2 linked regions of the Homo sapiens genome follow. The protein of the gene in region 1 interacts with the protein of each later gene in a pairwise test. Each region holds a gene or a part of one and is shown on either strand. Other genes may lie near its edges.

The links.
Region 2: the proteins of ZBTB25 (region 1) and HCLS1 interact in a two-hybrid assay, tested with the Homo sapiens proteins (one large-scale study listed by BioGRID and IntAct).

What each region holds. Positions count from the first base shown.
Region 1 is NC_000014.9:64,483,105-64,486,931, reverse strand, and holds part of ZBTB25 (zinc finger and BTB domain-containing protein 25), read left to right. Parts: coding exon 1-9; 3' UTR 10-3,827. UniProt on the Homo sapiens protein: May be involved in transcriptional regulation.
Region 2 is NC_000003.12:121,647,230-121,651,056, reverse strand, and holds part of HCLS1 (hematopoietic lineage cell-specific protein), read left to right. Parts: intron 1-3,608; coding exon 3,609-3,738; intron 3,739-3,827. UniProt on the Homo sapiens protein: Substrate of the antigen receptor-coupled tyrosine kinase. Plays a role in antigen receptor signaling for both clonal expansion and deletion in lymphoid cells. May also be involved in the regulation of gene expression.

The sequences.
Region 1 (3,827 bases):
GTTGAGTAGCAGCTTCTCTTTCAGAATTTTTATACCAATTCTGAAAAAGAAAATTTGCGTGGCATTTTTAATTCATAAATTATTTTCCTCCTCAAGTTTCATTGACTTTTTTTCTTCACAGCTTATCCATGGTTTTAAGGTTGTATATATTAGATCTTCTCATAAGACATATTAATATGTGGCTATTAAAATGTAACATTCAATTACTACTGTGAACTTTTCACAAACGAAATAACAATTTAGAAATCAGAAATCAATGTAGAAATATGGAAACCTTAAATAGTTATTTATAGAATTCTAAGTTTTTCCAGTTATAGAATCAGTAAAATCAAATTGAATATAAAGTAAATGAAATCTGTTTTAAAGCATATTCTAAACTATCACTTCTGCCTACATTTCACATGAATTCACTCCTACCAGGATTATTTTTAAATATTTTCTTCCATATAGGAAATTAATAGTTACTTTAATGCATAACTGTATGTTATACATATGTTATAATGTATAAAAATTTATTTTAAGATATACCAAATCATGAGTAGTTTTATTTTTTAACTACTAGCTCCACAACATCTTACCTACATGGCTTCTCTTTACTTTTTAACATTGAGTATACCTCTTTTTTTTTTTGAGACAGAGTCTCTCTGTGTCGCCCAGGCTGGGGCGCAGTGGCGCGATCTCGGCTGACTGCAAGCTCCGCCTCCCGGGTTCACGCCATTCTCCTGCCTCAGCCTCCTGAGCAGCTGGGACTACAGGCGCCCGCCACCACGCCCAGCTAATTTTTTTGTATTTTTTTAGTAGAGACGGGGTTTCACCGTGTTAGCCAGGATGGTCTCGATCTCCTGACCTCGTCATCTGCCCGCCTTGGCCTCCCAAAGTGCTGGGATTACAGATGTGGTATATCTCATTTTTAATAAAAAAAACAGTTAAAGGGAGAAGAGTCAGAGAGACATTAAAAAATATTTAAGAAACAGTAAGATATACACACATAGATAAATAAGCATGCAGAGACAGAGACTGAGCTAGAACTGCATTGACTAAAAACCCCAGGGTTGTTAACTTGGTCTAGAGTGTTTTCTTAGACACCTTAAAAAGTAATTTGAGATTTTATGACCAGAGGTTTACATGAGTTGAAAGAGAATGATGATAAAATATAAATCATGTTTCTACCCTCAGCGTCAGGATTTTTGGGGCTTCCTGGGTTGATTTTAATTTTCTAAAAATCACTGAAAAAGTAATTTTTCAGTGGCACAGTTTTCACTTTTTTCCTGATCCATAAAACCAGCAAAGTGGATACATTCAGTGTTCTATAACTACATTTAAGATCCATGATGTTAGCTTTTCCTCTATAAATCAACTTAACTCTCTTTTATAATGGTGACACTTACAAAGCTAAAACCCCAGGAAAATTAAAGTTGATGAAAGAAATAACAGATTCCCCGGCTCTATATACCTGGGAAATAGCTGGTTAAGCTTCACCACAAAGGATAGATCTAAATTGTTTCTGAAATGTTTAAATTTCAAACCCCGCATAGTCAAGGATAATAAAACAGACTCATCTTTTTTTGCCCTCTTGTTAAATTCTAAGCTTCACGGGCATTTGAATACATCTAAAAAATTTGGTTTGTGAGCCTTAGAATTTAACCACTTACAAAACTCTTGAGCTCCCTCCACTTCTGAGGACGTTTCCTGACACATTCAACAGCATCAGCGTCCAATCAGGAGGGAGCTCAAAGAGTAATCCAGCTAATTCTAAGGACACAAAGGTTTTCTCTAGGTAAACAGTTTAGGTAAATTACAAAGTGGTAAGTTTTTCTTGAGGATTGAATGAAGAAAGCTACTGGATATTGTGTAAGGCAGTTGAGTTTCTGCCTTAAACAAGTGAGTAAAGGCTCCTATGGTTAAGACTGATGTGTGTTGAGAGCACATCTAACTTGATAAGATCAATTGTATTGGGAGTAATTAAAACAAATGTATGTTCTTTGGGGTCAGAACTTTGTCTAATCTTAAACTTTTTTCTACCAATTCACTTAAGCAACTATTGAAATTTGTACTGCCCTCAAAAATATCATCTCATTGGAAGAACACAAGTATTAACATTGATTTTTTGTATTTTAGGCTAGTTAAGATATATTTCCTAGCCTTCTTCAATTCAAATTCTATTGTTCTTATTAAGATAATTTTTCTCCTCTATATTCTTCCCTGTTTGCCTACTCATTATTATTATTTTTTTAATTTAATTTTTTTTTAAGATGGAGTTTCACCCTTGTTGCCCAGGCTGGAGTGCAATGGCGTGATCTCGGCTCACTGCAATCTCTGCTGCCTGGGTTCAAGCGATTCTCCTGCCTTAGCCTCCCAAGTAGCTTGGGATTACAGGCATGCACCACCATACCCAGCTAATTTTGTGTTTTTAGCAGAGACAGGGTTTCACCATCTTGGTCAGGCTGGTCTGGAACTCCTGACCTCAGGTCATGCACCAGCCTCGGCCTCCCATAGTGCTGGGATTACAGGTGTGAGCCACCGTGCCAGGCCCACTCATTATTCTTTGACACAGGAAATCCTTGTATATAGCTAAAGGGTGGAGGTAGAGTTGTACATGGTTGGTTGGATAAGACAGCAAGTGCCTCAGGGCAGAGTTTGGATAAATGGTAAGAGTTTGCTAGCAGCTGATTGGCCGTGATAGACAACACTCATTTAAAGCAGAAATATATCTGTTCGTTGAGAGTTAAGAAAATAGTGGTTAACTGTATTTCTATTCTTATAGTTCCTTTTAATATTAGAAATTCAAAGCAAATGCTCTTTCCTTGTTCCTTAAAACATTCATTCTGTTTAGGAAGTGGGAAAATATCAACTTCATTTTATAGAAAAAAAATCCCAAAAGCTGAATTCCAGAGATGCAGTGAATAGTGGTGTGGGACTGACCCCCAGTTTTTGTTATTGTTGTTTTCATTTATTCTGCAGGCTTTTTTTTTTTTTTTTTTTTTTTTTTTTGAGACAGTCGTGCTGTGTCGCCAGGCTGGAGTGCAGTGGTGCAATCTCAGCTCACTGCAACCTCCGCCTCTCGAATTCAAGTGATTCTCCTGCCTCAGCCTCCTGAGCATGTGCCACCATGCCCAGCTAATTTTTGTATTTTTAGTAGAGACAGGGTTTCACCATGTTGGCCAGGATGGTCTCGAGCTCCTGACCTCATGATCTGCCTGCCTCAGATTACAGGCATGAGCCACCGCGCCCGGGTCTGCAGGCATTTTTTAAAGTAACTGTCATATGCCTAACACTGTGCCCTGAGTATTATTTTTTAAAGACATGATTGCTCACTGAGAAAATTTGCTTTGTATTTTAAAAGTTCTTCCAGCTAGGCCAGGCGTGGTGGCTCATGCTTGTAATCCCAGCACTTTGGGAGGCCGAGGCGGGCGGGTCACGAGGTCAGAAGATCCAGACCATCCTGGCTAACACAGTGAAACCGCGTCTCTACTAAAAATACAAAAAATTAGCCGGGTGTGGTGGCACACACCTGTAATCCCAGCTACTCGAGAGGCTGAGGCAGTGGAATAGCTTGAACCCGGGAGGCAGAGGTTGCAGTGAGCGGAGATCGCACCACTGCACTCCAGCCTGGGTGACAGAGCGAGACTCCATCTCAAAAAAAAAAAAGTTCTTCCAGCTAAAACCTTTATTTTTTGACTACATCTCCACAAAATGGAGCTATACTGTTAGCCAGTATCCTAATAGTATAGTGCAGTTTGCATAATGATTACCAAGCTTGAAACTGGAAATGTCATATGCACTTTCGTGTGTATCAGGCAGATACTAAACATTTTCCCCTTGAGTCA
Region 2 (3,827 bases), on another chromosome or scaffold:
TTCAAGCGATTCTGCTGCTTCAGCCTCCTGAGTAGCTGGGACTCAGGCGCCCACCACCAAGCCCAGCTAATTTTTGTATTTTTGGTAGAGACGGGGTTTCACCATAGTGGCTAGGCTGGTCTTGAGCTCCTGACCTTGTGATCCACCCGCCTTGACCTCCCAAAGTGCTGAGATTACAGGCGTGAGCCACCACACCTGGCCACTTTTTCATTTTATTAATGGCATCTTTTTAAGAGCAAAAGATCTTAATCCTGATGATGTCTAATTTATTGAAAAAAAATTTATGGGGCTAATGCTTTATGTGTCTAAGAAATATTTACCTACCCCAAAGTTGTGAAGACTTTCTTTGATGTTTTGTCCTAAAGGACTGACAGTTTTAGCTTTTACATTTAAGTCTATGACCCATTTCAAGTAGACTTTTCTGTGCAGTGTGAGGTCAAGATTGAGGTTCATTTTTCTCCATGTGATTATTTAGTTGTTCAACAATATTAAAAGAGTATTCTGTTCCCATTGACTTACCTGGCATCTTTGACCACATACATGTGGGTCTATTTCTGGACTCTATTCTGTTCTGTTGATCTATTTTCTACCCTGACAGCATACCATACTGCACTGATTATTGTAGCTTTATAAGTCAAGAAATTATGTAGTCCTCAACTTTGCTCTCCTTAAAAAAAAAAAAAGAAACAAAAGATTTTACTATTCCAGGACTTTACATTTTCACATAAATTTTATAATTCACTAGTCAATTCCTACAAGAATGCCTGTTCAGATTTTGATTGGGATTGCATTGAATCTATAGATCATTTTAGGGAGAACTGACATCTTAATGATATTGAGTTTTCCAATCCATGAACATGGGATATCTCTCCATTTATTTAGATCTTCTTTAATATTTTCAGAAATATTTTTTAGTGTTTAGGTCTTGCACATACTTTGTTAAGTTTATCCTAAAATGTTTCATGTTATTTCATGTATTTATATTTAACTTCCAGTTTCCAAATGTTTATGGCCAGTATGTAAAAATACAATTGATTTTGATATAATGACCTTGTATCCTGTGACCTAGCCAAATGCACAATGCTTTAGTAGCTTTTTTTGTGTGAATTCTTTAGGATTTTCTACATACATGATCAGGTCATCTGTGAATAAAAACCTTATATTCTGAGTCACTCACATTTGTGCTTTTAGTTTTGTAATAAAAAACAAACACAGATTGAGGAATGAGTCATCTTTGAGGTGCTACATTTTGCTTGGTTCACATAAACTGCATTGCTTTATCAATACAAAGTCTTTTAAAACTTAAATTGGATATCTGAGAGTTAATATGTCAAAAGTTTCTTAGGCACAACACAGCATATTGAATTGGAATTTTTTGTTTTCCTCTCTATCTCTTCTAGCTGTCCTCTATCTCCATACATAAAACATTTTTGTGTCCTCAGAGCCTAACAGTACCTCACACTTAAAAGTTGTTTAGTTAATAGTTATAAAATGAAGGAATGATGTGATTAAGACCTGTTTAGGCCAGGCGTGGTGGCTCACGCCTGTAATCCCAGCACTTTGGGAGGCCAAGGCAAGAGGATCACTTGAGGTCAGGAGTTTGAGACCAGCCTGGCCAACATGGTGAAACCCTGTCTCTACTAAAAATACAAAATCTAGCGGGGCATGACATGCATGCCTGTAATCCCAGCTACTCTGGAGGCTGAGGCAAGAGAATCACTTGAACCCGGGAGGCGGAGATTACAGTGAGCTGAGATCATACCACTGCACTCCAGCCTGGGCGACAGAGCAAGATTCTGTCTCAATAATAATAATAATAATAAAGACCTGTTTAGAATGACTTCCACTATAACCTAAAGAAGTCTGTTTTCTTTGGGCCTCAACAATTTCATTCAAATTATATCATTGGTATGATCCCCTGACTAGTTTTTCTGTTATCCTTTAGATGAATATTTCTGAGTATCATTTTCTAATCCCTTTTAAAAACTTGTTTTAACTATAATATAGTTATAACCCATTTAACAATTATTATATTCATTAAAAAATTGCAGATTTTTTCCATTTGAAAGTAAATTTTGGCCCCATTTTCTTGATCTTTCATCTGAATACTTCAGTTGGAAGATATTGGGCAGGCATTTACATGTCCTTGGTACTAGTAGCTTATGACACAGTGTTGGTGTTGAACTGACAACACAAGATCTCTGCTTTCAACGCTGCCAGAGAGTTTAGAGGAGGCATGGGAACAGGGGGTTCTTCCAGCACTTGGCTTAATTTCATCTGGTTCATAGCCAGCTTTCTAAAATTAACTGCGGCTAAAGCTGAGAAGGCTTTTTAAAAAGACCTTTGGTAGAATTATCCACTAAAGGCCACCAGATGGATCTATTCTTCCTTAAAAGAAGACAATTTCTGCTGTGAGACAGCCATTCTACGTATAACCAATGTGTCTGGTTGTCCTGCGCTGGTAAAGTCCCAGCTCACCATCTAACATCACTATCTTAATACCCTAAACCCTCATTGCTTGCTGCAGAAAGTCAAATTTCTTATTTAGGGTTCTCTTGCCCAAATGTTTCCAAGAATCCCCGGATCCTTATATGTGTCCAAATAACAGATCTGATTGTCACGTGGGGCTGAGCTATCACTTCATATCCTCAAGCCAAAGAGGTTGGCCAAGATGGCTTTCTGCCCTCTTAATTGTTGCAGTCACCTTCATGGTAAAGATGGAAGTGGGTGTGAAGTAAGAAAGATAATGCCTTTTTTGGTGGTACTTTCTCTTAGGGATAGAGGTGTCCCTTCAAATCAAGATAATTTGAGGCTTAAAGTGTTATAGCAATAACTGTGAGTGGATTTTCTTAGTTAGTTTTCATTAGTCCTTAGTTTTCTCAGGTATTATCAGCCTGGGGGGAAGGGGCAGAAGATCTTAATTCATGACCAAAAAGCATAAAAAATACCACTAATGTTTACATAAATTTCCCCAGTTCTGTGTTTTTATAAGCATTATATTTAATGACTTCCTAGTACACTAGTGAAAGGTAGTATTTCAATTTATTTAACTATTATCCAACCATTGGTCATATAGATTGTTTCTTAGTTATTGCTATTATATACGATGCTTCAATGAGTATCATTTAGACATTAAGGACATTAAGCTTTGCCATATTTAAAATCATTTCCCTGGTGTAGACTGCTAAAACTAGAATGTGTAGGTCCAATGGTATGTGAATATTTTTCTGCTTTTTGAGACACATCCTCTAATTGATAGAAAGCAGATCCATTCAGAAAAGAAAATAACTTTCCAGTTATCAGAATATAGGTACCATTGTCCTCTAATATTTAAGAACATGAAAAATGGGACTAAAGATCAGAAGGTTATTTTAGTGAGCAAATAACAGACTAGAGGAAATATTATTGGCCTATGGAGAGTTTAAATCAGGCTATGGTATGCAGGCCAGACTGATCTTTTACTTCCAGACCCATCACTAGTATATTTTGGGGGCCCAGGTTATTACTGAAAGTAAACAGGACAGACTTCAAGGCTTCCATTTTTCTGGGAAGATGGGTTTCTTGATCTCCCTAGGATAGATGAGCCTTGGTCATGTGGTTTCTTCCAGCATCCACCAGCTGAGGAACAAAGTATCAGAGGAGCATGATGTTCTCAGGAAGAAAGAGATGGAGTCAGGGCCCAAAGCATCCCATGGCTATGGAGGTCGGTTTGGAGTAGAAAGAGACCGAATGGACAAGGTAAGTTGAAAGGGAAAGATTTGCTTTAAAAAAATACAAGCCGGGTGCGGTGGCTCACGCCTGTAATCCCAGCACTTTGGAAGGCCAAG